Regions from separate parts of the Homo sapiens genome. Here all the other regions are linked to region 2. Evidence: fine-mapped expression QTL. A gene starts in region 2. Each other region holds a variant in brackets. All regions are shown on one strand. Distances are between the middles of the regions.

Region 1 (10,080 bases), 410 kb before region 2:
GTGTTGCAGATTGCCTGGCTGGCAGCAAGTCCAGACCACCCAAATTTGGTTGGATTCTTCATTTCTCCACTGTAGTTGGGGTCCATTGATTGTGCAGGGGAACGTGCAGGAGGTTTTTCTAGGCACCGTGTTCAGTGCTGCTTCACTCTACCAGAGATTATGGCCAAATTGCACGGAATTTGGTTTCTTGCCCTCTGAAGCCTGAGGGCCCCCCCTTGCCTGGCTGGTTGACAGACCCGGGGTGGTCACTGCTGAGACTTCAGAGATCGCAGCTGCTGTGAGAATACGGTGAAGGTACTTTGTTCTGGAAGATGTTGTCATACACTTTTCCCCAGTTATTTTCAAACTTGACATGAGCCTATGTTGACTCACTGGGTGGGGGTCCCTTCTTACGCAGCACACGTGGCAAGTGCCTGAATCGGGGCTGGAGGCACTTCAGAGCCTCTGAGGGGCCACCACTTCTGGCCCAAAATTGCAGGGTTGTAGATGAGGCTGCCTGTGGAGAACTGGTGTGAGGAGGAAGCTGTTTCCAACAAAGAGCACTTTCATCTGTTGAGATGGCTGTGGTGAGCAACTGAACGAGCCTACGTGTGTACCTGAATTTTCCCCGTAACTCATTTCTTCCATATGAAGAAACACCAAACTATGTACAGAGAACTTTTTACAAAAGGCAGACCTTTTTTAAGCTGTGTAACCCACATAGCCTAACCACCTGGCAGAATGACTACGAATAGGGGTCATTGTGCTGGTAAAAGCCTCTATTACGACTGTAAGTAAGTTGGATGTTGGCAAAATTAAATTGTTACAGTATTTAGAGCTGCTGTAGCTGTTCCTTCACAACATAAAATAGGATAAATGACTAGTACGTCTTTCAGGTGGGTGGCAAGCAGAACATGCGTAATATTCTCTACCTGGTCTGTAGCTGTAACTGTGATGTACAGACAAAGCAAAAATTAAAAGAACTTATGAAAACAAATGCAATGATACTAGGATATACACTTTTGTATTTTTATTCTTATATAAGGTTATTTGCTGGCTATTGTTGGCCTCTAGTTCAGTCTGTGTTATTTAAATTCTAATATATGAATTATTTGAATTGAATTCATGTTCGGGGCCACGTTGTTGTATGTATTGATGTACAGCCTTGAATGTGAATAATTATTGTAAACTATATTTTACAACTTTTTTTCTGGCTTTATTATATAAATTTTCTATTGGGTCAGTGATTTAATCATATAATTTAATGAATCTGTTTATCCTTTTTTTTTTTCCAAATACTTGTGCTTTAGGTGTAGTTACCAGATGATGAATTTTCCTCGTATGGTCAGTAGTCTTGTAATAAAAAGCATGTAGAGTGTAGAGGTTTGCTGGCGTGGCTCTTCCTTTGACCCCGCCACGGAGTGGGGGCGCGGTTGGGGGCGGGTGTCTGCCATTGCCCGCTAGCGTTGGCGCCCCAAGCTCGGTTTCACTCCCTCCGGAAGTGGGACCAGCCGGCTGCTTTTCCCGGATGGAACTTCCGCCTGCCATGTGACCGGCGGGTGTTCTACAAGGGCTGACCAGTGGGCGGGACAGAACGCAAAGGGCGATATTAAAAGCCGGACTCTTCCGGTGAAGCGGAGGTGTGGTGGGGCTTGCTGGGATCATGGCGGGGAATCACTGCGAGCTCCTGCCGCTGGCCCGTGGCAGGCTCGGGGCGGGGTTGGGGTGGCTTCTTGTGCCTCCCTTAAAGCGCGGGGCTCAGCGTCCTGGCCCAGCGCCCCAGCAGCAGGTCCAAGTGGGTCCGGCTCTACAGCGGCGGCACCTACTTCCTCACCACTGGGCAGACGCCGCTGTGTCAGGACCCGAAATCCTTCCTGTACCTCTTGAGCCAGGCCGACCCCGACCCGGACTCGGACAAGGTGAGGACCACGTGGGCCAGTCGAAAGGGCCTGGGCCATTTCGGCCTGTGGCCGCCGCACACGCCCTGCTCCACGCCGAGGAGAGCTCAGCAGGAGAGGGCGACTCTCCTCGGGCTTCGAGCCCAACACTCCCTTGTCGCCAGCTCATCCCCAGCTTGCCCCGATCCCCTATCCTGGGAGGGGAGGGCAAGGATGGCGCCCTGGTGTCCACTGCCTTTGAGAATCCTGAGTCGCTTCACCTTGGGGGTGTCTCTTCCTCGCCCTCTTTGCTCTTTGGTGGAGGAGGCTTCCGAGACCCCGGACTTTGCTGTGATTCTACTTTCTTTTTCTCACTAGGTTCTTTTGCCCAGGGTGTGTGAACGCCTTCTCTTCTCTGTCCCAGGGTACTTGCTGGCTCTGGAGACAGAACCCTTGGCGTTTCACATTCTGGACGTTTGAATTAACGCTGACGTGGGGGTTGATATGGGCGGCCCTTTTTTTCCCTGGTGACTTGTATTTAGAGAGTTGGCGCTCCATCCTTTCCATCCACAGCACGCAGCACCCACTCAGCACCTCTTAGAAGATGCGTCCATAGTATATACTGTGATTTTTCGAAGGGGATTTTGCTCATATTAAGGGTTGCTTTAGGGATGTCCAGGAAGGGCCAGGTAAGGAATCTTTCAATCTGCTTTCTAATTGGCTTAGTTTTCCCACTGTCTTCGCAAAAGGACAGGAATTTCCAGGTTAGTTTGCAGCTTGTCTTTCATCAAGCGAAATGCTCATGCTGTTGGGTAGATGGTAATAGAAACCTTTTGCTACCTTTATTTATCAAGAGTTGTGGAGCCGAGGAACCGTGTCTTGGGAGTTGTGCAGGATTGAAACTCACAAAAAAGCCTGTTTGAAGAAGTTGTTACCTATATTTATTCAAGGCAGTTCACAAGCCTTATACTAACTTTGCGGGGTCTTTCAGTTGAGCTTACATGACTGCGCTTGGCTTTGTGCCTTGGCAGCCAACATTTGCCATGCAGGAGGCTTCCCAGAAAGGTTCGGATCCCTCTTCAAGTTTGAGAAGCCTGACTGAGACCATTCTCAGCATGGCATGACCGTGATCAGGAAATGAGAATCTGGAGTTACTGCTAAGGCAGCCTTGTGGGTGGAAATGAGGGTTTGAGATGCCAACCCTCCTGTGCCTCCCCACAACTTCCAACTGTTTCCATTGCTCATTTGACCAAGCCCTCTACTCAGAGAATTGACCTCCCAGGAAATGACAGTCATCCCCAGGATAGAAATAGGCGTTTGTTAGCTGTGATTTTCCTTTTATAAGTGTGGGTGTGTGTTTTACTGTTTGGTTTTTCTTTTTAAATAACAGGGCTTAGTGGTCACTCCCTTGCCTTTCTACTCAAGCATTCCTGTTTTGTATATGAAATTAGAGTTTAAATTGCTCTTGTCCATTGGGTTCTTTGAGGCAATGGTTGTCTATTCAGCACTGGAGCACTTGATTCCCAGTTGATGAACTATAGCACAGTTAAGGTGGTTGATCCCTTTGCTTTACTGTTCCTTAAGACTTTGTTAAAAATTATGGGCCGGGCGCGGTGGCTCATGCCTGTAATCCCAACACTTTGGGAGGCCCAGGCAGGTGGATCTCGTTCAAAACCAACCGGGCCAATATGGTGATGCCCGGTCTCTACTAAAAATACAAAAAGGTGGGCGCGGTGGCTCACGTGTGTAATCCCAGCACTTTGGGAGGCTGAGGCAGGCGGATCACGAGGTCAGGAGATCGAGACCATCCTGGCTAACACGATGAAACCCTGTCTCTACTAAAAATACAAAAAATGAGCCGCGCGCGGTGGCGGGCGCCTGTAGTCCCAGCTGCTCTGGAGGCTGAGGCAGAAGAATCGCTAGAACCCGGGAGGCGGAGCTTGCAGTGAGTCAAGATCACACCACTGCACTCTAGCTTGGATGACAGAGCAAGACTCTGTCTCAAACAAACAAAAAAATGCTTTACGGTAGGAATCAATTCTTTGGGCGAGGGGTAATTAATCTTTCTGAATATATCTGTGTTATACTTGCTCTTTTCATTATCATCCATTTAACCAGGTTTGATTTCCAAATGGTAAAACTCAAATTCAGAACATGAAGGTAAAGTAGCAGATACAGTCGTCTCTGTCTCATACAATAATTGGAGTAGGGGCCGGGCAAGGTGGCTCACGCCTGTAATCCCAGCACTTTGGGAGGCCGAGGCGCGTGAATCACCTGAGGTCAGGAGTTTGAGAGCAGCCTGGCCAGCATGGCAAAACCCCGTCTCTACTAAAAATACAAAAAAATTAGCTGGGCATGGTGGCGCGTGCCTGTACTCCCAGCTACTCGGGAGGCTGAGGCAGGAGAACCACTTGAACCGGGAGGCAGAGGTTACAGTGGGCTGAGGTTGCGCCACTGCACTCCAGCATGGGCGACAGATCGAGACTCTGTCTCAAAAAAAAAGAAAAAAGAAAAGGAGAAAACAATAATTGGAGTAAATAAGGTTAGTTTTAGTGACAGATAATTTGCCAAAAGTGTAGTGCTAATTCATATTAGTCACGTTACTAAAGTGTTTTCCGGTGTTTTTCATCAAATGAGGAAATGTGTAAAATGCTTCATCTTAGTTTTGTCTCCAGTGGCTCTGATGAAAGAATGTCCCAGGAGATTCCTCCTAATTAAATGCTGACTGAGGAATCTGAGGAGGGGGGGAAGGGGTGTCAGGAGTGGGAGGCCATTAATGACACGTTGGAAGACAAACAGGATGTTGATTCACCTGTAAAGATCTCCAAGGCCTGACCTCAGAGTTGAGATTAAGGAAAGAATATTCCTCGAGTTGGACTTAAGCATGGATCTGGTGGAAGAGTCCCTGCCTGGATTATTAGACTTGTGTGGAGTGAGCACCTGGGCTTGCAGAGTGTGGGGGTCTGGAGAGGGGTTGGGTGGGGAGATTTAAGGGGGAGGAGTTCCCAAGAAACCATAGAAGCTTTGGGTGCCTGAGAGGTTGGGAGAGCACCCTGCTAAAGCATCCTATCTGGTAGGGAGGGGAGCTCT[TGACA/T]GACGGGTTGTTAGGGAGGGTGGTGAAAGCCACGCACATCAAGGGGCTGGCTTGATTGCCCTCTGGCCCCACATCTAAGCTTCTGGGCTGTGACTGCCCCCAACCAAGTCCTCAGAGCCCAGCTTGGGACCCACCACCCGCCATACTCCACGCTCCCAAGCCCTTACTCTGCTGTTCCAAGGGCCGACCTGCTGCCACAAAGTTCTCTTTCTAGACAGCCCGGTGTGAATTCTCACTTCCTCCTGGGACTTCCTCCAGCAGGACTGTGGCTGTGGTGAGCATTTCAGCATCTGCTCATCTGCTGTTCTGTCATCTTTCTCTTCCTTGGTGTCTTCGAGGGCAGGCCAGGTGGAATACGGCTTCCCAAAGACTCGATTCATTTTGGTTAGGTCTCTTGTATTGCATGGTCCCCGGCCCATAGGCATTGTTGAAAACAAAGTCGAGTTTGTTGTTTCCAGCTAAAGCAGCCCCTGCTTTAGTGTGGAGATACTTGAGGAGTTAAAAGGAAACAGGAAATACTACTGCTTTATGGTTGGAAACCACTCAGATGGAGGAGAATTTGGGGAGGCTTCGGTTCCTGCAGCTGAGGCAGCCTTGGAGAAAACTGCACGTGAACTTTTGCCCTTTGAACAGGGCCGTTGTCCCGGCTTGAGGGTTCCAGATGTGGTGGCATCAGATGGGTCTTTGAGGGGTGGGGCAGTCAGGGTGCCTCTAACAGTGTACTGGGTGTTGGCAAGACCTCGGGGGTGGAAAGTTATGGAAGGAATTGTTCAGACAGGGCCCAGTGATGGGGTGTGGGCTAGAGTACCGTCTTTGAAGCCGCTTGGCAAGAGAAGTGGGGATCACGTCTAGTGGAGATGGCAGATGATGTACTGTGTAGCCAGCACTGGTGAGAGACTGTGCCCATCCCGGGCCTGCCTTGTGACTTCGGGTGATTTCCCGTCCCCTGTGAGCTGTAGTTTCTTCCTCTGTAAGGTAAGGGTGACGTCCTCCCCTGAAGATGACAAATGTGGTGCCCCTGCCCCATGCCTGGCACCAGGTCAGTGCAGTCAGGAGAGGCTGTGCCTGGAGGTCTTCGTGTTTGTACTTGTTTTTTTTTTGAGACGGCGTCTCACTCTGTTGCCCAGGCTGGAGTGCAGTGGCGCGATCTTAGCTCACTGCAAGCTCCACCTCCCGGGTTGACATCATTCTCCTGCCTCAGCCTCCTGAGTAGCTGGGACTACAGGCACCCGCTACCACGCCCGGCTAATCTTTGTGTATTTTTAGTAGAGACGGGGTTTCACCGTGTTAACCAGGATGGTCTCGATCTCCTGACCTCCTGATCCACCTGTCTTGGCCTCCCAAAGTGCTGGGATTACAGGCATGAGCCACTGCACCCGGCCTGTACTTGGTTTTTGTTTTTAAATATTTGAGACAGAGTCTCACTCTATCCCGCCTCTATCTGGGCTCACTGCAACCTCTGCCACCTGGGTTCAAGAGATTCTCTTGCCTCAGCCTCCCAAGTAACTGGGATTACAGGCACAAGCCATCATGTCTGGCTGATTTTTATATATTCTGTAGAGATGGGGTTTCTCCATGTTGGCCAGGCTGGTCTCGAACTCCTGACCTCCGGTGATCTGCCCACCTCGGCCTCCCAAAGTGCTGGGATTACAGGTGTGAGTGTACTTTACTTTTAGGAAGGATATGCTAAGAACGCTTTTCCCCTCCCGCAGCCACACTTAATTTCTGTTAATGTCGACCTCTGGCCACACTCAGCCCTGTCAGCCTCGGGTGATGCACCGGAGGTCCCTGAAGGCAGCATGTATGGCCAGGAGTGGCTCGCCCTGCCAGTCCCCCTGCTGCCACCCAGAGCTCTGGCTGACCCTAGCAGCACAGGCCCCCGCTGAGTGGGTCTCCACCTCTGGGGACTGGACCCTGCACTGTGGGGAGGGCAGGGCTTCCTGGGCAGCCCCCGAGTTTTCTTGCAAGAAACCTGACACCCCTGCTCCTGAGAGGGCTCCAGTTCCTGCCGAGCAGAGCAGGACTCTCTGCAGCGACCTCGGCTTGGCAAGACCCCCCGTGGTTCACCTGAAGCATGTTTCTTCCCCGAGAAGCCGCAGGACCTCTTGTGAGGGGCCAGGTCGTGAGTCCACACACGTCTGCTTCTCACTAAGCTTTGAGTCATGTGTGGGGCAGGGACCTCCCAAATTCCAGTTTCTATGCTGGGTGAGGCCGAGAAGCAATGGAAGGGAAGGGTGGTGGGGAGGCAGCAGGCCTGGCGACCAGGGCACAGGGGCCCCACCCTGCTCTCCGAATCTGGCTGCCTTGGACAAGCCTCCTTGGTCTCTGGCCTCAGTTTCCCCATTAGTAATTGGTGACATCAAAGTCCTCTTGTGGGCCAAAGATATGCCACAGCTGCATAAAACAAAACAGAAGAGAGAGTAGAGGTGAAGGTTTTGTGTGCGAAATTGAAACAGAGTCACTTGAAATGGATAATTTCAGAGTAAAAACTAAGTATTTCTAATTAGGTTGATTGCAGATGTTGGTGCACAGGAAATTCTATGCCTTCGCGTCTAGATTTCTGTGGGGCAATTTGACAGAGTTTATCTCCTGGATTGGCTCAGGGCACTGCACCCTCTTGATTTCGTTCCCCTCTGGTGGCACGTGTCTCCGAGCACCGGGAATGACTGAGAGCCGCAGGGCCGACCCTCTTTGCAGAGCTCTGGGAGCTGCGGGAGGGTTGGGCAGCAGCAGGGTTATGTTGGGTTCAGAATCTGGCGTGAGAGCCTGGCAGTCTCCACCCTCATTCCTCACTGCCGTTTTTTTTTTTTTTGAGACAGAGGCTCACTGGATCGCCCAGGCTGGAGTGTAATGCACAATTTTGGCTCACTGCAACGGGGCTGTCAGGTTCAAGTGATTGTCCTGCCTCAGCCTCCCTAGTAGCTGGGATTAGAGGCACCCTCCACCAAGCCTGGCTAATTTGTGTATTTTTAGTAGAGACAGGGTTTCACCATGTTGGTCAGGCTGGTCTTCAACTCCTGACCTCAGATAATCCGCCCGCCTCGGCCTCCCAAAGTGCTGAGATTACAGGCGTGAGCCACCAAGCCCAGCCCTTCACTGCCATTTTCAAGGCTGGTGGTTGCATTAGGGACCTGTTCCTCAGGGGCTGGGGTGCCCCCATGTTGTCTCTGGTGCTTTGCTTGCTGGGTGACAGCATGGAGGGTTGAGGGCTGCAGCCGGAGTCTGGTGACATGAGCAGAGTGGGCAGGCTTCTCACCAGCCTTCTCTGAGTGCTGCTCTCCTAAACAGACTTCCCTCTGTGTTTGTCCTGTGGACTTGGGGAGGGGGCAGCCAGCTCTGTCTGTGGGATCTTCTTCTACCTCCTGAGACTGTGTGTGCCCTGGCTTGGCGCTGCCTCCCGTGCGCTCCTCTCCAGGAGACAACCTTGGCTCCTGCTCTTGGTGTGGCCAGGATCCCTCTTCTCCTCTATGGTTTGGAAACCGGCCTGCCTGGCCTGCGGTGGGTGGCTCCGGCTGAAGGCTGTGACCCCTGGAGATGGGTGGGTCAACCCAGCCTGCTGGGCCCACCCAATACCAGCTTGGGCCCGGCCCCAAGTAGGTCAGATGCCGGTTCAGCAAGGTGCGGGGAAGATGAGGGAGATGACTTGCTAAGAAAAGTCTTAATTATGGCTTTTTTTTTTCAGACGGAGTTTTGTTCTTGTTGCCCAAGCTGGAGTACAATGGCACAATCTTGGCTCACCACAACCTCTGCCACCTGGGTTCAAGCGAGTCTCCTCCTTCAGTCTCCTGAGTAGCTGGGATTACAGGCATGCACCACCACACACAGCTAAGTTTTATATTTTTAGTAGAGATGGTTTCACCATGTTGGCCAGGCCAGTCTCAAACTCCTGACCTCGTGATCCGCCCACCTTGGCCTCCCAAAGTGCTGGGATTACAGGTGTGAGCCACCACACCCAGCCAATTAGGGCTGTCTTACAAAAAAAAAAACCACCACGAACCTTTGCGAGAATCGAGCGCAGCCTGTGCTGGTTGTGTAAGCCGTGGGACACACGGGAAAGCCAGGAAGAAGAGGAAGAGCACCCCCACACCCCACCCGCGTGAAGAAGAGCAACCCCACTCCCCGCCCGTGGGAAGAAGAGCACCCTCACGCCGGGCCCGCAGGAAGAAGAGCACCCCCACGCCCGGCCCGCAGCATCCCGCTGGCTTCCTGGCCACCTCTCCTCACCCATCTTAGAGGCATGGCCGGGCTGGGGCATCTTTCCCTCCTTGGGCAGGTACCGCTGATGGCCTTGTGGGCAGCACAGGGGCCTTACCTGGGTCGGCTCAGGCACTGTTCTGAACATCCGTGAGGTGACCTTGCTCCCTTTGTCTCCGTGAGCCTAGGAGTATATCCTGAATTTTTTATGTTTTTGTACTCCCCATGTTCCATATTTTTGTTTCTGCATCAGGGTGGAGGCTATTGAGCCACATCCCTGACACAAGCAGTGAGCTGCCAAGGCCCTTGCGCCTGAGCTTGGCACTGTCTGGGCCTGGGCTGGTGCCATGAGTAGACCCTGCACGCACTAGGCCAATCTGGAGCACGTGGCTCACCCGAGCTCAAAGCACCGACACCCTGCACGTATATGGATGCGAGTCAGGCCTCAGCGAGACCTGAACCCTGGTAGGATTGAAGAGTGTTGGTTTCAGACCCCAGCACTTACTGTGAATGTGGAAATCAGCCACTGAAAGCCTCAAAAGAGCACAGTGGTGAGAGCAGCACCAAGCCCACTGCCAGTACACCCAGTACGCTGCTGGGTCCTCAGGCCTGTTCCTCTGTCCTGCTGTGTGGTTTTAACTGATGGCCGTCCTCGGCCCGCCCTCCTTCCCTCCTGCCTCCGTCCTTCCAGTTGCAGGGCTGGGGCTGCCCTGGTTGTCTGGGGGCACCCAGTACAGTTTCTTCTCCTCTTGCATCGGCCCAGGGCCCGAGAAGCGCATGGTGGGTTGTCTTGGCCTAGAGGTCACGGCTCAGTGCCCAGGTCCTGCCACAGGTTGGGTGCCCTGGCACTCATGGCGGCCCCGAGCTACACGAGCTGGTCTCCCCCACCTTTTGCTCGTAAAGAAACTGAGGCTTGGGGTGGCCTGGCTGTGAGCC
Region 2 (10,080 bases):
AGCCCACCTAGGGGGGCTAGCTCCAAAGTCAGGGTCTGGGTTGGTGTCAGGTGTGTCCTGCTTCCCGCTGTGCACTTGGTCAGGTTCGCTCAGCTCCCTGAGCTTGTTCCTGTCTGTGAAGGTGGGCAGTGAGCCCGTGAGGGTGACAGCTGCAACACCGAGATTTAGCTGCACCTTTTGGTTTGGGAGCTAGGGGACCAGCTTCTCTACCTGTAAGATCTGGGTCTTGGCTCCTCCGGGCGCAGTGGGTGACTCTGCCCTTGGGGTTCTTAGTGTGCTGCCCCCACACCCACCCCCGCACTGTTCCTGGCGCATGGTAGCTCCTGGTAACTTCCTTCCTTTCCTTTGTGGTCAGGCCACACTTCCCCCTCTAAGAGGCGCGGGTTAACCCACTTCGACCCTATCTAAGCTGATCTCTGGTTTCTTCTGCCCACCTGAGCCTCCCTGCCCCTCTTTCCTCCTAGACGGAACAAAAACGAGGTCCATTTTGTCGCTCCAGGAAGGGACTGGTGGAGAGCCGGCTTCCTTTCCTCCCAGGGTAGTACAGTGGGGAAGGTTCCCCTCCCCCACCTCTTTTCCCAGACGTGGTGGATGGGGGAGGGGACTTCGCTGGAGGTGTTAAAGTGCCATTGAGATGGTAACCACACCAAGGGGCCCCCACTTTTCCATATCAATGGCATTCCAGTCCCTGATTAGGCCCCAACCTTAACCCTTCCTTTCCCAAGATCCAACTGAATCCAGGTGCACGGGGGCCTAGGAGAGGGTCTAGGACCTCCCAACCTAGGTCTAGTGAGGGCTGAGGACAACAGGCTAATTGCTACCCATGTGTCCTGGGAATCCTCCCACCATGGGCAGCTCCCCAACCACCCTCTTCCAGCCTCTCCTAGGCTCCAAGATGTTTCTCCACTTTTACTCTCCCCAAGGGGCTTGGGGAGATACTGTGTTTTATCTTAGAGACTTGGGGTGGGAGGAGCCTGAAGCCGCACAGGGCCACTGTGAAGGCAAGTCCAGTGGGTTGGTCACTGAGGTGGGGGTGTGCGCATTTGCTGAGCAGCCTCCACCCACTCTGCTGGCTAGTCCCTGGAGTGTGGGCTTGCTTTCCTTCTTGCTCCGGTGTGGAGATGTTGGGCCAAAGAGGAATTGGGGTCTTAAAAACCTGGGGTCGGCTGGATGCGGTGGCTCACACCTCTAATCCTAGCAGTTTGGGAGGCCGAGGCAGGCAGATCACGAGATCAGGAGTTCGAGACCAGCCTGGCCAATATGGTGAAACCCCGTCTCTAATAAAAATACAAAAATTAGCCGGGTGTGTTGGCACATGTCTGTAGTTCCAGCTACTCGGGAGGCTGAGGCAGGAGAATCGCTTGAATCCAGCGGGCAGAGGTCGCAGTGAGCCGAGATCACATCACTGCACTCCAGCCTGGGCAACAGAGCGAGATTCCGTCTCAAAAAAACAAAACAAAACAAAACAAAACACAAACCTGGGGTCCCCGAGCAAGTGCGGTGGCGCTTGCCTGTAATCCCAGCACTTTGGAAGGCTGAGGCAGGCGGATCACCTGAGATCAGGAGTTCGCAGACCAGCCAGACCAACATGGTGAAACCCCGTCTCTGCTAAATACAAAAAAAGAAAAAAAATAGCCGGGTGTGGTGGCGCATGCCTGTAATCTCAGCTACTTGAGAGGCTGAGGCAGGAGAACAGCTTGAACCCAGGAGGCAGAGGTTGCAGTAAGCCGAGATTGTGCCATTGCACTCCAGCCTGGGCAACAAGCGCAAAACTCCGTCTCAAAACACAAACAAAAAAACCCCTGGGGTCCTCTTATGCCCTTTCCGGGCACAGCGCTCACTGGATGTGTGCAGCCCGCCACTGGGCTACAACGTAGGGGTTTAGAGCTGAATGTGGAACCGGTGAGTCACCGAGGCAGGGCCCGACAGCAAGTGGACCAGCCGTCCCGGTTTCCCTGGAGGACCCAATATTCAAGCTGGGAATGTCCCTCAAAAAAGTGGGATGAGCCGATCACCTTAGGCCCTAGGACAAGGAGGACTTGTTCCGGCCCAGGGAAGAGAATAGCCCCTGGGTTGGGGCTGCTGGGTGGGGGGACTTCCAGGGAGGCAGGCTTGCTGCTGCCTCCTGACAGCTGCCCAAACCTGTGTGGCTGGATTCCTGGAGGCCCCTGGAAGGCTGCGAGGGAGCCCGCTGACCGGCTTGCCTCCGTCTGCAATCTCTGCTCTCCCCACCCCAACCCTGTGAAATCTGAGCCCCAGGGGCTGGGTGAGCTGGACAAACCTGCCACAAGATTCCCTGAGTCCACTGATGGCCATTTTCCAGCCTCTGTATCACCCCCCCATCTTCCAGACTCTGTGGGGCCACCAGGTCAGCCCCCCTCGTACCGGAGGAGCCCCCCTCAGTGGAGAGGCCCAGGGGGTGGTGAAGAGGAGGCCAGGCTTCTGTTTACCTTACAGACCAGCTGATTGGCGCTGGCCTGTCTCTGTGTTTGCAGGGGAGGATCTTAAGCTGTTTTGGGTCAAGGCCCCTTTGCAAATCTGAAGGAAAGTATAAATCTCTCTTCCAAAAGTATCATTTTTTTTAAGAGACAGGGTCTCACCTAGGATGGAGTGCGGTGGCATAATCATAGCTCACTGCAGACTCTAACTCCTAGGCTCAAGAGATCCTCCTACCTCAGCCTCCCGAGTAGCTGGGACTACAGACAGGAACCACCTAACTCAGCTAATTTTTGTGTATATATATATATATATATTTTTTTTTTATTTTAGAAATGGGGTCTCACTGTGTTGCCCAGGTGGGTCTCAAGCTCCTGGCCTTAAGCAATCCTCCCACCTTGGCCTCTTAAGCGCTGGGATTACAGGCGTGAGCCTCAGTGCCCGGACCCAAAAGATGCTAAAACCCTTTCGCAGAAGCGATGCTCATACCCCTAGGTTTGAACCCTGACCGCTCCTTGAGGTTAGAGCCCTTTATACACAATGTCCCACCCACTAGGTGAGGGGCACTGAGCAGGGGTGTGCCTGGCCACTGGCTCCCCGAAGGCAATGCCGTGAAGTGGTGCAGCCACCAGATGTGTGTGGTGGGCACCTCCAGCCCTGCCCGCACTGGCCAGTGGGCTCCAGCACACCCCAGCCCTCCCAGCACCAGGCAGGTGAGAGGCAGTCCCAGGTGAGGGCCCACTCTGAGGATCCTCTGTACCTCCCTGGAAAGTGTATGAATGGAGACAATGTTCCTCACATCCCTTTTCCTTTTTTTTTTTTTTTTTTTTTGAGACAGAGTCTCCCACTGTCACCCAGGCTGGAATGCAGTGGTGCGATCTCGGCTCACTGCAACCTCTGCCTCCGGTTCAAGCGATTCTTCTGCCTCAGCCTCCCAAGTAGCTGGGATTACAGGCACCCGCCACCACGCCCAGCTAATTTTTTTTTTTTTTTTTTTTGAGGAGTCTCTCTCTGTCGCCAGGCTGGAGTGGAGTGGAGTGGTACGATCTTGGCTCACTGCAACCTCTACCTCCCGGTTTCAAGTGATTCTCTTGCCTCAGCCTCCAGAGTGGCGAGTGGCTGGGACTAGAGGCTTGTGCCACCACGCCCAGCTAATTTTTGTATTTTTAGTAGAGACGGGGTTTCACCATGTTGGCCAGGATGGTCTCGATCTCTTAACCTTCCGATTTACCTGCTTCGGCCTCCCAAAGTGCTGGGATATCTAATTTTTTGTATTTTTAGTAGAGACGGGGTTTCACCATGTTGGCCAGGCTGGTCTCGAACTCCTGACCTCGTGAATCGCCCACCTTGGCCTCCCAAAGTGTTGGGATTACAGGCGTGAGCCACCGCACCTGGCCGTCACACCCCTTTTTCAGACAACAATCCTCAGAGGTTCTTAGCACCCAGGCAGGGGCTTGAAGGAGTTCATGAACCCTCCCCCACAAATGAGGGGCACATGTTTGTGGGTGCATGTTCTGTGAGTCCCACGGGGTTTCTCAAGTGGGTCTTTGACCAAAGGAGGTTAAGGACCTCGACCTTCCATGACCTGTCCCAGGTAGGGGTCAGGATTTGAGCTTTGGTCAGTGGGACTCCCAGGCTGTCCCCATGAGTGGAATCACAGGCTCTGAGGGGGTTTTTCCGGAGGTAAGGCTTTCCTGCAAACTGGAAGGCAGGTCTTGGGGACACTTGAGTCCCTGGACTTAACCCCCGTGCCCACCTCTGGGGTGTTTTGGCCCGGGAGGCCTGACTGGCCACTCACTCACCCACCCATGGAACATAACCGGGTCCTGGGCTGTGCCCCACCCTGGGTTCCAGCCCCAGCCCGTCCCGCCTCCATCCCCCTTCCTGAGTGCCCCCCAACCTCCACAACAGGCCCCTCATCCTCTGGCCTCTGGAGATCTTAGGCAGCTCAGCTCAGCCTCGGTTTCAGCAGCAGGGGTGGCAAGAGCGCACCTGAGCTGAGGTTGAAGTGGGGGGTAGTTTTCTAGGCCGTTGCCAGGGCGATGCCACCTGAGCTGGGCGCCAGGCACCTGTCGTCTGGGGAACAGTGCAGGCGGGGACCTTCCCCCGGGAGCTAGCGGGGCCACTGGGCTGAGACGGGGGATGGATCAGATTCCAGAGAGTCCCAGGCGGGCGGGAGTGTGCGATACTCGGGGAGCTGGGGCATGTTTGCATCACGAAACTCGGCTGGGGGAGAGCAGAGGCAGCTGGGGAGGGGCTGCGGAAGGAGGAGGCTCAGGAAGGCAAGCCGACGCCCCCTGTGTGTGTTTCTGTCCTGAGCCTGTTACTTTTTTGACCCCCGATCCGTCTCTTCTTCCTCAGCTTGTCCTCCATCTTCCCCTCCTTTACCCTTGGTTCCCACATGCACAGATGCTACGGACGCTTTTCCTCCCCTGTCCCCACTCAGCCGCAGCATCCCCCGCTGGCCCCCAGGCCCCTCATCCATCCGCTGCCCACGAACCCCCAGCCCCGCACCCTCCCCGTGGCTCAGGTCTCCCCTATCCCGGCCTCCCTGCACTTCACTCTGCTCCTCCCCTGCCTGGGCCTTAAAACCCCGCCTGCAGCCGAGAGCCCGCAGAGTCCCCAGGTGGCACTGTCAGAGTCGCTCAGTGGGAACCTGCGCCAGCCGGCAGGAGACGTGGCTGTCCTCAGCCTGGCAGTGCGTCTGGAGGGCCTGTGCGAGCTCAGCCCAGGTGTGACAGCGGGGTGGTAAGAGCAGCAGCACCCTCAGGGCATCCGATGGGCGGAGGCCCCTCGAGGTGACACCCACCACTCAGCCGAGCGGGACTACGAGTCTGCTTTGTGCTCCGCGAGGACCAGAAACACCTGCAAGAGGCACGGAGAGGAGGCGCCTTTCAAGAGGCGCCTTTCATGGAACTGAGGACTGGCCTGGCTTGGGGACACCAACAAGCCTTCCCCCTCCTGCTGGACACAGAGACACCCACCCAGCACACCAGACACACCCTCTGAGTCACCTAGGCCGCCTGGGGCTGAGAAGACCTAACCGAGGGGCCAGATGGCTTCGACCGGCTTAGAACTGCTGGGCATGACCCTGGCTGTGCTGGGCTGGCTGGGGACCCTGGTGTCCTGCGCCCTGCCCCTGTGGAAGGTGACCGCCTTCATCGGCAACAGCATCGTGGTGGCCCAGGTGGTGTGGGAGGGCCTGTGGATGTCCTGCGTGGTGCAGAGCACGGGCCAGATGCAGTGCAAGGTGTACGACTCACTGCTGGCTCTGCCGCAGGACCTGCAGGCCGCACGTGCCCTCTGTGTCATTGCCCTCCTGCTGGCCCTGCTTGGCCTCCTGGTGGCCATCACAGGTGCCCAGTGTACCACGTGTGTGGAGGACGAAGGTGCCAAGGCCCGTATCGTGCTCACCGCGGGGGTCATCCTCCTCCTCGCCGGCATCCTGGTGCTCATCCCTGTGTGCTGGACGGCGCACGCCATCATCCAGGACTTCTACAACCCCCTGGTGGCTGAGGCCCTCAAGCGGGAGCTGGGGGCCTCCCTCTACCTGGGCTGGGCGGCGGCTGCACTGCTTATGCTGGGCGGGGGGCTCCTCTGCTGCACGTGCCCCCCGCCCCAGGTCGAGCGGCCCCGCGGACCTCGGCTGGGCTACTCCATCCCCTCCCGCTCGGGTGCATCTGGACTGGACAAGAGGGACTACGTGTGAGGCGGAGGTTTCCCCTGGGAGCCCACTGCTCCCCACTGCCCCGCCCTTTCGACCTTGGCCTGATGACCAGATGCCCTGCTCCATCACAACCTCCTTCCCCAGGAAAACCCACTTTCCAAAAGCCCAAGCTACACCTGGCTGCAGGGCTGGGTCAGCTGGCCTGGCTGAGCTCTTCTCAGTGGGGTCCCCTTTGATGTTCTCCCCCAAGTTGGGCAGCCTAGAGGTGTTGGGAACCCTGGCCTGCCCCCACCTCCCCAGTAATTGTTTCCTTCCGTTGCCCAGGACACTGGCTGGCCTTCCTTCTCTTCTGAGCCCTCCCCTGCCCCAGGAACCCTGGCCTCACCAAAACAGCAGCAGCTCGTTGGCTCCAAAACCAGGGAGCAGACCATGCCCTCCCAACCCTGGAGTTGTCAGGGAGGGCCTGCCCATCACCTCCCTCTCCCCAACATCCCCACCCTCGAGTTGGAAATAAAGAGCATTTGTAACTGGGCTCCCTCTAATCTGTGCGCCGCCGCTGGGGCTGGGCAGGCACAGCCAGGTGGCCTCCCTTGGTGGCTGTCAGGCCAAGGTCTGGCTCTAGGTTCTGCCTGGTGGGTATGCTCACTCAAGCCACGGGGAGAGGGGATCGTGACTCACTTATGCCCATCTCTTCCCCTAGCCAGGGTGGGCACTCAGTAACCCGCTGCAACACCAAATGCACTAACAAAACATGCTTTATTTGATAAAAATGTGAGTGTAAAGGGGGTGAGACGAGGGGGGCAGGGCAGAAGGGTGCAGTGTTGGAGGTGGGGGCGGGGGTCTACATAGCTGGGACCTGGCCCTGGGGGGTGGACGTCTTATCAGGACGGAGGAAACAGAGGTCAGAAGTTCCGGAGGTGGGCAGTCCTTTGTTAACAGATCATTTGTTTTTCCAGGGGTGAAGAGAGGAGCTCCAGAGACCTGAGTAGGATGGGGGGCAGCTGTCCAGTGACATCTAGGGAAGCCCAGCCCCCAGCAGCAGCAGGAACTCTTGGGGACAGTCTGTCTTGTTGCAAAGCCAGCACAGCAAGCAGCCTCCGCATTAGTTCCATAGCTTGACTGGCTTCTAAGATGGGCATGTCAAGATCCAGAATCTCAAAGCATCCCCTCTTTGGCTCCATCATCCAAGGGTGAGAAACAGCAGAGCCTAAGTGAGAGTCTGAGTCAACACCTTGGCTCAGTTTTCAAATGAATTTTAAATATCCTCAGTCAAAAGAAAAATAGCAGGAGGCAGAAACAAAAGGTACGAACCCATCCCAAAGCTGTTGGGCACTGCCACTTCTGGATGGCTCTAGCGCCAGCGGAGCCCCCATTCCCCTCCACGTCAGACGTAATTCTTGGTAGGGTACTCAGAGGGCCCCCGAGAGATGGCAGGGGCAGATGTTGAGTAGCGGGCCATGTAATGGCTGGGGCCCTGGGACCCCCCCGAGGGGCAAGTGCAGCACAGCAACCCCCCACCCAGCAACAAAAGGCCTGAGGCCGCCCAGCCCAAGTAGAGGGAGGCCCCCAGCTCCCGCTTTTGGGCCTCAGCCACCAGGGGGTTATAGAAGTCCCGGATGATGGCATGCGCCGTCCAGCACACGGGGATTAGCGTCAGGACCCCTGAGATGACAAAGACAATCCCAGAGGTGAGCACCAGGCGGGCCTTGGAATCCTTCTCCTCCACACAGGTGGTACACTTGGCCCCAGCAAGGTAGACCAGCAAGCCGAACAGGGCCACAAGGAGGGCGATGACACAGAGGGCACGTGCAGCCTGCAGGTCCTGTGGCAGCGCCAGCAGTGAGTCGTACACCTTGCACTGCATCTGGCCGGTGCTCTGCACCACGCAGGACATCCACAGGCCCTCCCACACCACCTGGGCCACCACGATGCTGTTGCCGATGAAAGCGGTCACCTTCCACATGGGCAGGGCACAGGAGACCAGGCCATTCACCCAGCCCAGCAGTGTCAGGACGACTCCCAGGATCTGCATTCCGGCAGAGGCCATGGCGAGGTTGAAGGAGCTGCACTGTGTTTGGGACAGAAGCACAACAAGGTGAGGCCTGGCAGGCCCAGACCTCAGGCCACATGTGGACAGGACTCTAGGGGCATGCACCCTGGAAAGTGGTCATCACATCCTGGAACTCAGTCAAGACATGCTCCCTGAGCCTCACTTCTCGTGGGCAAAATGGACACTTAATGCTTTAGCATTTATTATTCTTTCTAGTTATGTGACAGGCACTGGCTGATGACAGTGACTGTGCAAGCAGCCCTGCCCTGGCTATCCTGAATGCAAATGAAAGATAACAGGATGAAACCTATACAATGACAGTCCAAGGCCAGAGCCAGTGATCAGGCTGCAAGGCGGCAAAAAGCAGGATGACAGGACGGTGCGATTTCCAAGCAGTTTCCGTGTAGAATGGTTCAATTCTAGCCCTGAGTTTAAGGCTCAAAACTTGTCCATTTGTTTTGTTTGTTTGTTTGAGACGAGGAGTCTCGCTCTGTGGCCCAGGCTAGAGTGCAGTGGTGCCATCTCCACTCACTGCAACCTCTGCCTCCCAGGTTCAAGCGATTCTCCTGCCTCAGCCTCCCAAGTAGCTGGGATTACAGGTGCACACCACCACGCCCGGCTAATTTTTTTTTTTTTTTTTTAAGACGGAGTCTCGCTCTGTCGCCCAGCCTGGAGTGCAGTGGCGGGATCTCGGCTCACTGCAAGTTCTGCCTCCCCGGTTCACGCCATTCTCCTGCCTCAGCCTCCCGAGTAGCTGGGACTACAGGCGCTCACCACCACGCCCGGCTAATTTTTTTGTATTTTTAGTAGAGACGGGGTTTCACTGTGTTAGCCAGGATGGTCTCGATCTCCTGACTTCGTGATCCTCCCGCCTCAGCCTCCCAGAGTGCTGGGATTACAGGCATGAGCCACCACACCTGGTCTTAATTTTTGTATTTTTAGTAGAAACAGGGTTTCATCAAGTTGGCCAGGCGGGTCTCGAACTCCTGACCTCAGGTGATCTGCCCGCCTCAAGCCTCCCAAAGTGCTGGGATTACAGGTGTGAGCCACCGTGCCCAACCAAAACTTGTTAATTTCAACACTAAGATTGGAGATCCTAAGCTTCCTCCCACCACCCAATGTCCCTCACAACTTGGTTCCACACCCCAGGCTGGCAGACACCAGGACCAGGAGAGATGAAGAAAAGCATCATTAATCCCCCATCTAAAAGCAGTTCCTCCCCCAAAGCCAGTGGATAACTCCCTGGCCCCACCCTTCTGACCTGCCCTAGGCGCCGGAGAGCATAGCCTCAAGGCTGAGGGCCTTTTCCTATGAATTCTAGACGAAAATGCCGTGCTAGACTCCCCTCAACACCAGTTCTCCCACCGCCACCTGGCCTGCACCTGTGTCCCCTCAGTGTTGGAGGTCGTGGAGGGAATCACTTCTGACTAGGGCCGGGCTGTGGCCTCCCACTGCCCAGAGTACTTTCATTGTACGGCTTGGACCTAAACTTTTCCCGGCCGGCAGCGGTCGGAGGGCAGGCTCTACTCATTAGCCGGGGGCCCCAGGCCTGGGCGGAGCAGACCACCTTGGGGAGACTGGCTGGGGCACGGTGCCCCAGCGCTCAGGTCCGGCCCTTAGGCCTCTGGCCGAGTTAGGGTCGGGGCCGCGCTGGTATAGGCGCCCAGGCCTCTCCCCTCTGAGTGTGCCCCTGCCCCTTTCTTTTTCATGCACTGCATGAAAAAGACTCTGTCCGAGGGCGCCCCGGCCCACCCGACCACCCCAGCCTGGGAGCCGCGCGCCCTGGAGGGGTTCTATAGCTGCAGTGGCCGCAAGGTCCGCTCCCCCAGGTGAGGGGGAGGGGGGAGGGGCGCCCCGCCCCGAGAGGCAAGGCAGGTGGGGGAGGGGCGCCAGGGGTTTCGGAGTCTTTGTCCCTGGGGAGGGGGGA
Region 3 (10,080 bases), 52 kb before region 2:
CCCCAGCCCAGCCAGGGCAGGGCAGCTTCCAGCAACTCTTGCAGACATTTTGGAGGCCAAGGCCGCTAGCGCCCCAGCAGCCATTCCGAGCCGACTGGCCTGGGGCCCAAATGAAGCCAGCCAGCCCTGGGCACTCCCGGGCCCTGCCAGCCTTGGGGTCCTCATCTGAGAAGGGCGGGTCCTGCAGGCCAAGCCACTGGGGTGACAGCCAGTCATCCAGCATCCCCATGGGAAAACCCCTTCAAATCCACCCAGGAGCTCAAGGGCTGAGTTGAACTCTGAGTTTCCAAATCAGGGCCCCTCCCTGGCTCTGCCCACGCTGGTGACCAGAGCATCTAGGACAAGCCGGCAGCAAGTGACCCCATCCCACCGAAATAAGCCTGGCTTTGGTCATCTCGCCCCCTGCTGTGTCCCACTGTCACCCATTCCTCAGGTGGTGGGGGAGGCGCAGAGGAACCAGGCAGCTAAGGAGGCAATGGCGGGCGGGGCAGACAGCAGGCTGGAGGGGTAGAGATCAAGGAATGCTTCTCAGAGGAGGCAGCTCTGAGCTCCGCAGCACAAATTTATTAAGTGAAGATGTAGGGAGAAGCACATCAGGCTGAGGGAACCGCAGTACAGCAGCCCAGAGCGGAGAAAGGACCGGACCTGGAAAACCAGGAGGAGATCATGCTGGGGTGTGGGGAATGTGGTGGGGGTGAGGTCACGGAGGGAGGCATGAGCCAGCCCAGGCAGCACCTTGAAGTGTTCTGAGAGCTTCCAGAGCATTCTTTTTTTTTTTTGCCCCTGCTCCCTCACCCAGCCTGGAGTGCAGTGGCGCGATCTTGGCTCACTGAAACCTCCGCCTCCCAGGGTCAAGGGATTCTTTTGCCTCAGCCTCTTAAGTAGATGGGATTACAGGCGTGTGTCACCACGTCTAGCTAATTTTCGCATTTTTAGTAGAGATGGTGTTTCACCATGTTGGCCAGGCTGGTCTCGAACTCCTGACCTCAAGTGATCCACCCACCTCGGCCTCCCAAAGTGCTGGGGTTACAGGCGTGAGCACCTGAGCCTGGCCAGTTTCCAGAGGATTCTTATCGGACCAGAGACACAATCTGATTTAATGTTTAATGACTCTCCAGTCATGTATCTGATAGTTCAGTGTTTAATTACCAGAGAAAAGACTGGTTGCTGGCAAGGATGGCAAAGGGTGAGTGTGAGGAGTTAGACGTCAATCGGGTGAGCAGTTGTCCAGGCAAGAGCAGGAGGTTCCAGCCAGGGTGTAAAAGAGACCAGAGATTGTTAAGAGATGTTACACGTTAAGTTGTGTCCTCTAAAATTTACATGTTGAGGCCAGGTGCAGTGGCTCACGCCTGTAATGCCAGCACTTTGGGAGGCCAAGGCAAGTGGATGACTTGAGGTTGGGAGTTCGAGACCAGCCTGGCCAACATGGCGAAACCCCGTCTCTACTAAAAATACAAAAACTAGCCGGATGTGGTGGCGGGTACCTGTGATCCCACCTTCTCGGGAGGCTGAGGCAGGAGAATCACTTGAACCCAGGAGGCGGAGGTTGTAGTGAGCCCAGATGGCACCATTGCCCTTCAGCCCGGGTGACAGAGCGAGAATCTGTCTCAAAAATATATATATACGTAAAAATAAATAAATAAAATTCACATGTGGAGGCCAGGCGTGGTGGCTCACGCCTGTAATCCCAGCACTTTGGGAGGCTGAGGCAGGCGGATCGCTTGAGCCCAGCAGTTCAAGACCAGCCTGGGCAACATAGCGAAACCCCATTTAAAATAAAAAAATAGGGGCCGGGCACAGTGGCTCAAGCCTGTAATCCCAGCACTTTGGGAGGACGAGGTGGGTGGATCACAAGGTCAGGAGTTTGAGACCAGCCTGCCCAACATAGTGAAACACCATCTCTACTAAAACTACAAAAAATTAGCTGGGCGTGGTGGTAGATGCCTGTGATCCCAGAAACTTTGGAGGCTGAGGCACGATAACCGCTTGAACCCGGGAGGCGGAGGTTGCAGTGAGCCCAGATCACACCACTGCGCTCCAGCCTGGGCCATAGTGCAAGACTCCGTCTCAAAAATAAATTAATTAATTGAATAAAATAAAAAAATAAGGCCAGGCGTGGTGGCTCATGCCTGTAATCCCAGAACTCTGGGAGGCTGAGGTGGGTGGATCACCTGAGGTCAGGAGTTCGAGACCGGCCTGGCCAATATGGTAAAACCCTATCTCTACTAAAAATACAGAAAAGTAGCCGGGCGTGGTGGTAGACGCCTGTAATTCCAGCTACTCAGGAGACTGAGGCAGGAGAATCTCTTGAACCCAAGAGGTAGAGGTTGCAGTGAGCGAAGATCACGCCATTGCACTCCAGACTGGCCAACAAGAGCGAAATTCCGTCTCAAAAATAAATAAATAAGCTGGCCGGGCGCGGTGGCTCACACCTGTAATCCCAGCACTTTGGGAGGCCGAGGCAGGTGGATCACAAGGTCAGGAGTTCAAGACCAGCCTGGCCAAGATGGTGAAACCCTGTCCCTACTAAATATACAAAAATTAGCCGGGTGTGGTGGCACATGTCTGTAATCCCAGCTACTCGGGAGGCTGAGGCTGAGGCAGAGAAGTGTTTGAACCTGGGAGGCGGAGGTCGCAGTGAGCCGAGATCATGCCACTGCATTCCAGCCTGGGCGACAGAGCGATTCTACATCTCAAAAAAAAAAAAAAAAAAAATTAGCTGAATGTGGCAGCACGCCCCTGTGGTCCTGGCTACTTGGAAGGCTGAGGTGAGAGAATTGCTTGAGGCCAGGAGACTGAGGCTGCAGTGAGCCATGATCACACCACTGCATTCCAGCCTGGGCGACAGAGCAAGACCCTATCTCAAAATAAAAAAAAAAGAAAAGAAATAAAAGGTGACAGGGCAGGGGTGGAATTTGGACACAGAGCTGCACACATGAAGAACACCGTGTGAAGATGAAGGCAGTGAGAGTGAGGCTTCCACAACCAAGGAAGGCAACACAGAAGAAAAGAGTGGGATGGGCAAGGGAGGAGGGACTGGGCCAGGTGCCGTACCCGGCAAGCCCGCGGTCTTGGTGACTTAACCCACAGATGTTTGTTTTTCAGTCATTCAGAGATTTGTGCCGAGACTTCCGGTTGGCAGGCACCTTCCACCAGGTCACTCGGGGATCCAGCTCCCTCCACCCTCCCCAAGGTATCCCCTCCGCTCAGTTGGTGAATGGAGAAGAGAGAAGCTGAGGCTGTGGCAGGCCAGACCTGGCAGGGACTTTCCAGGGATCCTGTGAAAGTGTTCTAGCCCGATATGGTGTGGCTCACACCTGTCATCCTAGCACTTTGGGAGGCCAAGGTGGTGGATCACTCGAGCTCAGGAGTTCCAGACCATCCTGGGCAACATCGGTAGACTCTGTCTCTATTTATTTGTTTGTTTATTTTTATTTTTGTTTTTTTGACATGGAGTTTCAGTCGTCACCCAGGGTAGAATGCAATGGTGCCATCTCGGCTCACTGCAACCTCTGCCTGCCGGGTTCAAAAGATTCTCCTGCCTCAGCCTCCCGAGTAGCTGGGATTACAGGCATGCACCACCATACCCAGCTGTTTGTATTTTTAGTAGAGACGGGGTTTCACCATGTTGGCCAGGCTGGTCTCAAACTCCTGACCTCATGATCTGCCCACCTCGGCCTCCCAAAGTGCTGGGATTACAGGTGTGAGCCACTGCACCCAACCAAGAATGAACCAACCAACCAACCTACCTACCTACCTACCTACCTTCCTTCCTTCCTTCCTTCCTTCCTTCCTTCCTTCCATCTTTGAGACGGAGTTTCGCTCTTGTTGCCCAGGCTGGAGTGCAGTGGCACGATCTCGGCTCACCGCAACCTCTGCCTCCTGGGTTCAAGCGATTCTCATGCCTCAGCCTCTTAAGTAGCTGGGATTACAGGCATGAGCCCCCACGTCCGGCTAATTTTGTATTTTCAGTAGAGATGCGGTTTCTCCATGTTGGTCAGGCTGGTCTTGAACTCCCAACCTTAGGTGATCCGCCTGCCTCAGCCTCCCAAAGTGCTGGGATTACGGGCGTGAGCCGCCGTGCCCGGCCCAAGAGCCACATTTCTAACAAGCTCCCCGGTAATAATGGCGCTGGTCCAGGCTCCGAACTTTGAGTACTGAGAGATGCCACTCCTGCTATTCCCCCGCTAGCCACACCTCATGTAGGGGAAGTGGGGAAATGAGTCTAGTGTTTGTGCAGGAGCTGGAGGAACTGGGATCAGTAAACACAGGTAGGGAGTGCAGCTAGGAAGCAGGCAGGAGGAACACAGCTGTCCCAGGAAGGGGGACAGGACAAAGTATCATTGCTGCTGAGGATGGGTGAGGTCACAACTGGGACTTGCAGCCCCTCAGCAGGGGCCTCTTTCTGAACCCCTGGGAAGGCCCCGAAAGATCCCCCAGGGCTGCTCTCAGGGTCTCAGAGGGGCCCACGAACCCCTACCCCACCCATTCCTCATCCAGCTGTCACCCAGGAGAGGTGGTCCACTGACCCACCGCCCTCCTGAAGACAGAGTGTGGAGGTGAGGCCTGGCCTGGTTCATCTCTCCCAGGGCCTCCCCAGCGGCCTCCAGGGGGACCCCCTGCCCACAGATTTCTGGGGCTTCCTTTTGCCTTGGTGGCCCTGATGTGCCTCTGCCATGAGGAGTGGGCCCCAGGTGGAACACTGTCACCACCAGAGAGATGAGAAAAAGGAAGGAAGGGCCGGGCAAGGTGGCTCACGCTTGTAATCCCAGCACTATGGGAGTCCGAGGGAGGCAGATCACCTGAGGTCAGGAGTTCCAGAACAACCTGGCCAACATGGCAAAACCCCATCTCAAGATTGCAGTGAGCCGAGATGGCGCCAATGCACGCCAGCCGGGGCGACAAGACAGCGACTCTGTCTAAAAAAAGAAAAAAAAAAAAG[T/C]CTCTACTAAAAATTCAAAAATTAGCCAGGCGTGGCGGCGCCCACCTGTAATCCTAGCACTTTCGTAGGCCGAGTGGGGGGGCAGATCACCTGAGGTCATGAGTTCGAGACCAGCCTGGCCAACATGGCAAAACCCCGTCTCTACTAAAAATACCAAAATTAACCAGGTGTGGTGGCACCCACCTGCAATCCCAGCTATTCGGGAGGCTAAGGCAGGAGAATCGCTTGAACCCAGGAAGCAGAGGTTGCAGTGAGCCAAGATCGCGCCACTGCGTTCCAGCCTGGGTGACAGAGCAAGACTCCGTCTCAAAAAAAAAAAAAAAAAAAGCAAGAAGACCAAGGGCAGCTGAGCAGCCCCAGGTGGAACCCAGGCGTCCTGACTGCACCGGGTCTGGCCCTGACCCAGAGCTCCCGGCAGGAAAGGGCTGGGCTCAAACACGGCCACCCTGCACCGCCTTAAGAAGGGCAGGGCTGAGCCTGCTCCTCCCCTTCCTGGGGGGCTGACTGGGGCAAAGTGGCCTGGTCCCTCCTCTTGCCCAGGTCCCCCAACTTCTCACCTTCTCCCTACTTGGGCAGGGCAAATCCTGTGTTCCATGTCCCATAGGAGAGAAATGCCAGGCTGGCCCCTGGGTTGCTTCTGCACCTACCTCTTTGGCTCCTTTCTCTCTGCCGCCCCCATGTGGCCAATCTGCACCTGTGCATCTGCTTCCCTCAGAGATGACATGCCAAGCCTGTCAGGCCCTAGGGACCCCAGGCCGACCCCTGCCCCAGTCTGGCCTCAGTCTCCCTGTCTGTGAAATGGGCTGCTGGAGATCCTGCTTCCAAAGTGTCAGCTGGCGGCAACGACATTCGAGGGGTGAGGAGCCCCTCAGAGCATGTGAGAGAGTATCTCTGTGTGCCCAGAGGTCCCTGAAGAATCAGAGACCCTGGAAGCGACATGGAGGCATGAATCAGCGCCCAGCCCCTGGATCAGACCAGGCGGAGCTTGAAGCCCAGTTCCAACGCTTAATAGCTGGTGACGCCCACGAGTCACCCAGTTACCACCTCTGCGCCCCATCTGCAGAATGGGGAGATGAGCCTGTCCCCTCTCGCAGGGCGTCAGGAGGGCAGACATGCCGCTGCTTGCAGAGCCCTGAGTGCCAAATGCTGGGGAAGTGGTGGGGGGTGGGCTTCTTAGTTCTGGAAGTTTCCGTGAGTGACCTGAGACTGAAGTTTGCCGCAGGGATACTCCACCCCACTCCATCTCAGTGCCCCAGCCTCAGCACTGAGCACCCACTTCCTCTCACCCCCTGCCCCCTCTGGAGGAGACAGGCCTGGGCCAACCGAACCGGGTGTCACAGTGCCAGGGACAGAGGGACGGTTCTTTCAGACCCTACTCTCTCAAGGGAAGGGGCTGATTCCTCCACCAGCGTCCCAAGCCGGCCCCCTTTCCGCACAGAGTCCTTAATTGTCCCTGTCGCCACCTTGCCCCATCCTCAGATGGCTGTGGCTGTGGGGGTGAAGCTCCCCACGCACCGCCATTGTGCAGGCCTGCCCCTAGGACATCCTCTGTGGACTGGAGCCCGGGAGGACTTCACTGAGCCCCCGCCAAGAGAAACCGGGCAGACAGGTGGTCCCGGATGCTCCCTCGTCGGGAAGCGCAGTTGGGTTCCAGGGAGCCCGTGGGTGCTGGAGGCCCCAGCTCAGGGCTCAGTGAGCCGGGCCAGCCTGGCCTCTGAGAGGGCTCCCGGAGGAGGCGACCAGGACCCTGGCCTAGAGTCTCAGCAAGTCCATCTCCTTCAAATGCCCCCACCTCGGCTCCACGCCCCTCCTCCAGAGCACACTCGCGTGAGGCGCCAGCTGGAAGATCCTCGCGGGTCCCAGCACCGCAGTGGGTGCCTGGGCCTGACAGAACCTCCCTGAACCCCATCTTTCTTCTCCATCGACACCGGGGCAGAGACGGTGTGGGGGCTGCAGGGCGGGGACTGGTCGGCCTGGGCTCGACAGCTTGGCGAGGGCCTGGTGCGGGCTGGGCAGGCTGGACTGAGGGGCAAAGAGGTCTGGGCGGGGCGGGGCCGCTCTGGGCGCCCGGCCCCCACCAGTTCCTTCCCCCGGCCCCCGCCTCCGCCCTCCCACGCACCTGCGCTGGCCTCCCCCCAAGCCCTGGGGGCAGCGGGCGGGTGGCGCTGGGAGATCAGAGGACTCGGAGGAGTCGGGCCCAGGGGGAGGGGGCGGGGAATTTCCCCCCACGCCTGCCTGGGCCTGCTCCCCTCCCCCTCCCCCGCCAGGTGGGGGGCACGGCTGGGGGAATTCCACTGCAGTGTGAAGGCTCGGGAGAGTCTGGGCTGGGGGTCCCAGGGAAGGGCGGGGCAGGGGGAGGAGGAGGGGACAGACTGGGACCTGGGGCGCAGCTGCCTTTCTCCCCAGACACCAGCTGCCCCTGCCTGTCCCGGACTGAGCGTCCACGACTCCCGCCTGTCTCGTGGGCGCGGGGGCAGGGAGTGGAGCTTCCTCCGTCAGGCCAGCGGCATCTGGACCAGGGGCGGGAGGGGCGTGCGGATCCGAAGAAAGTGTGCGCGTGAGCGCCTGGCAATGAATGGGAGAGAGTGCGAGCGCGTGCGTGCACTGGGAGGAGGGCGCTTGTAACTCGGACATTCCGGGTGTCCTGGGGCGCGTGCGACCACGTGAGGGGGTTCTGTATCTCCCATTTTAAGGGCCTTCCGTCCGCTTGCCCCGCCTGTCCCCCTCCACACCTTCCCACTTGAACCGGCACCGACCTGAGGGAGAGGGGGCCGGGAAGCGCTGGACGCCCGGGGTCGGGGGAACGGGCGTGGGAGGCGTCTGGACCTGCTGCCTCCGCTCCAGTGCTGGGCGGGGCTTCCCGGCCTCCCATGGGGGGAGGGAGAGACCCAGGGGGAGGGACCCACGGAGGGATGCGAGGCGGGCAGGAGTCAGCCCGTTGGAGACCTGGGCGAGGGAGACGCCGAGAGCTAGGCTCAGTGGGAGGGGGCGGGCGTAGAGGCTGAGGCACCGCCCAGAGCTCGCTGAGACAGAGACTGAGAACGCCCCCGGCCAGATTCCCCCCGGAGAGACCCGGGTAGGGACAGGGACAGAGAGACGCCTCTAGGGGCAGAGGCCCTGGGAGGCAAAGACCCCCAGGAGAGATTTACCCACCCCAGACGGAAAGCGCGGCTCAGAGTCGGACGAGGGGAGACTGTCAGAGGACAACGCCCCCTAGGTCTCCTGGGAGACCCCGAAGCGACCCCGGGGGCAGCCCGGGCCGTGTCCGGGCGAGGGTGACCTATCCTTGGTTGAGAGCGATGGGGACACAAGCCCTGCAGGGCTTCCTCTTTCTCCTCTTCCTCCCGCTGCTGCAGCCGCGTGGGGCCTCGGCTGGGAGCCTGCACAGTCCAGGTAAGTCCCCGCACGGCTGTCGGGCCGTGTTCACCACCCCTTCCTCGGCCTCCGCCCCCAGGGCCAGGCCCCCAAGGCTAGGGAGGGGGACAGAGCAGGTGGCCGGAGCAGCTGAGCAGCCCGAGGGCTCCTGCAGGGGCGGGTGCGGGGTCGCTGGCTGGGGACCCAGGCGGGAGGTGGCGTAGGGGCGCGAGGATGCCCGGCGTGGGTCCGGACCTCCCCAGGCCCTGCCTTTGCCGTGCAGGCCTGTCCGAATGCTTCCAGGTGAATGGGGCTGACTACCGCGGCCACCAGAACCGCACTGGCCCGCGCGGGGCGGGCCGCCCGTGCCTCTTCTGGGACCAGACGCAGCAACACAGCTACAGCAGCGCCAGCGACCCCCACGGCCGCTGGGGGCTGGGCGCGCACAACTTCTGCCGGTGAGGGGCGGGGCCTGCGCTGGGGGCGAGGCTGGGCTCACCATTGCAGGGATGGCCCGAAGCGGGGCCTCCGTGCGGGCGGGGTGGAGGTCTGCCGTGGACTGGCAGCCCAGCCTCCTGGAGAACCTGGGGGCGGGGCCAGAATGAGGGGCGGGGCGGGGCGGGGCGGGGCGCGCGGAACCCTGGCGCAAAAGGGATCCTCCTCAGGTGAACAATTTCTGCAGAGCTCCAGTTCAGGGCCAGGAGAGAAACGGACCTGGGCACTCAAAGGACCCGTATGGGCGGGGCCTGGTCAGAGCGGGGGCCGAATGGGCGGGGCCTTGTCAGAGTGGGGCTCTTGTCATACAACTTATTTTGGGGTTCAGAGCCACAGCTACGGTCTGAGGCAGGATGGACCCAGCGGGAGGAGAGCCGCAAAGCTCAGGAGCTCACTTCTGCTTTTAAGTGGGGTTGGAGGCCAGGCGCGGTGGCTCAGCCTGTAATCCCAGCACTTTGGGAGGCCAAGGCAGGCGGATCATCTGAGGTCAGGAGTTCGAGACCAGCCTGGCTACCATGGTGAAACCCCATTTCTACTAAAAATACAAAAAATTAGCGGGGCATGGTGGCGGGCGCCTGTAATCCCAGCTACTCAGGAGGCTGAGGCAGGAGAATCGCTTGAACCCGGGAGGCGGAGCTTGCAGTGAGCAGAGATCGCGCCAATGCACTCTAGCCTGGGTGACAGAGCGAGACTCGTCTCAAAAAAAAAAAAAAAAAGTGGGGTTTGAGGGACGGAAGTGGCTGAGGCCCATGCCGGGTGGGGGTGAAGAATACAGATGGCCTCAAAGTCCTCATATATGGAGTCAAGTCTAGCAACAGCTGAAGCCTAAAAACAGCTCTCAAGTCCCCTTTAATGACTTCCCGCTGTCCACTCGGAAGTCGACGTCCAGTTCCTTCATCAGGCAGAGTTCTGCGTAGACAAAACTGGAATTTGTGGGTGTACAGCAGGCAGCACAGCCGCTCACAGGCACAGAGCCTTGAAGGCCACTTTGAGCATAGGCTGCGGGGCCGGGCCTGGGTTTGCTATTCTTGGGGTGGTGGGAGCCCCACCACCTCCCTCCCACCCGCAGTAACCCAGACGGTGACGTGCAGCCGTGGTGCTACGTGGCTGAGACAGAGGAGGGCATCTACTGGCGCTACTGCGACATCCCCTCCTGTCACAGTGAGTAGCGCGGCTGGACAGAGGTGGGAACGCTGCTGCATCTGGGAGGAGGGTTGTTTTCGGAGTCACGGAAGTCTGACTCTGCCCCCTCAGTGCCAGGCTACCTGGGATGCTTTGTGGACTCAGGG

Evidence for each region. PIP is the estimated chance that this variant, and not a neighbour inherited with it, causes the effect.
Region 1: its variant is fine-mapped to the expression of CLDN9 in whole blood (GTEx, PIP 0.97).
Region 3: its variant is fine-mapped to the expression of CLDN9 in whole blood (TOPMed, PIP above 0.99).

The regions. Positions count from the first base shown.
Region 1 is chr16:2,601,830-2,611,909 of GRCh38, forward strand. It overlaps PDPK1 (3-phosphoinositide dependent protein kinase 1), which reads left to right. Exons shown (of 14, transcript NM_002613.5): 14 at 1-1,359. It also overlaps the pseudogene LOC652276. Among named protein-coding and RNA genes, the nearest start is that of FLJ42627, 32 kb to the right of the region's middle. RefSeq lists an enhancer at 1,743-2,082. The variant TGACA/T (reference allele first, on the strand shown) is at 4,947.
Region 2 is chr16:3,007,872-3,017,951 of GRCh38, forward strand. CLDN9 (claudin 9) reads left to right here and starts at 5,052. Exons shown (of 1, transcript NM_020982.4): 1 at 5,052-6,634. The coding sequence starts at 5,492. The coding sequence ends at 6,145. It overlaps CLDN6 (claudin 6), which reads right to left. Exons shown (of 2, transcript NM_021195.5): 2 at 6,841-8,171. The coding sequence starts at 8,150. The coding sequence ends at 7,488. RefSeq lists enhancers at 1-686, 687-1,644, 3,911-4,736, 7,336-7,900, 9,120-9,716 and 1 more and a silencer at 6,312-6,479.
Region 3 is chr16:2,956,280-2,966,359 of GRCh38, forward strand. It overlaps KREMEN2 (kringle containing transmembrane protein 2), which reads left to right and starts at 7,996. Exons shown (of 9, transcript NM_172229.3): 1 at 7,996-8,335; 2 at 8,580-8,754; 3 at 9,861-9,952; 4 at 10,046-10,080. The coding sequence starts at 8,242. RefSeq lists enhancers at 2,955-3,044, 5,233-6,230, 6,231-7,228, 6,715-6,844, 8,813-9,772 and 2 more and silencers at 6,925-7,004, 7,035-7,164, 7,715-7,794, 8,325-8,574, 8,645-9,014. The variant T/C (reference allele first, on the strand shown) is at 4,943.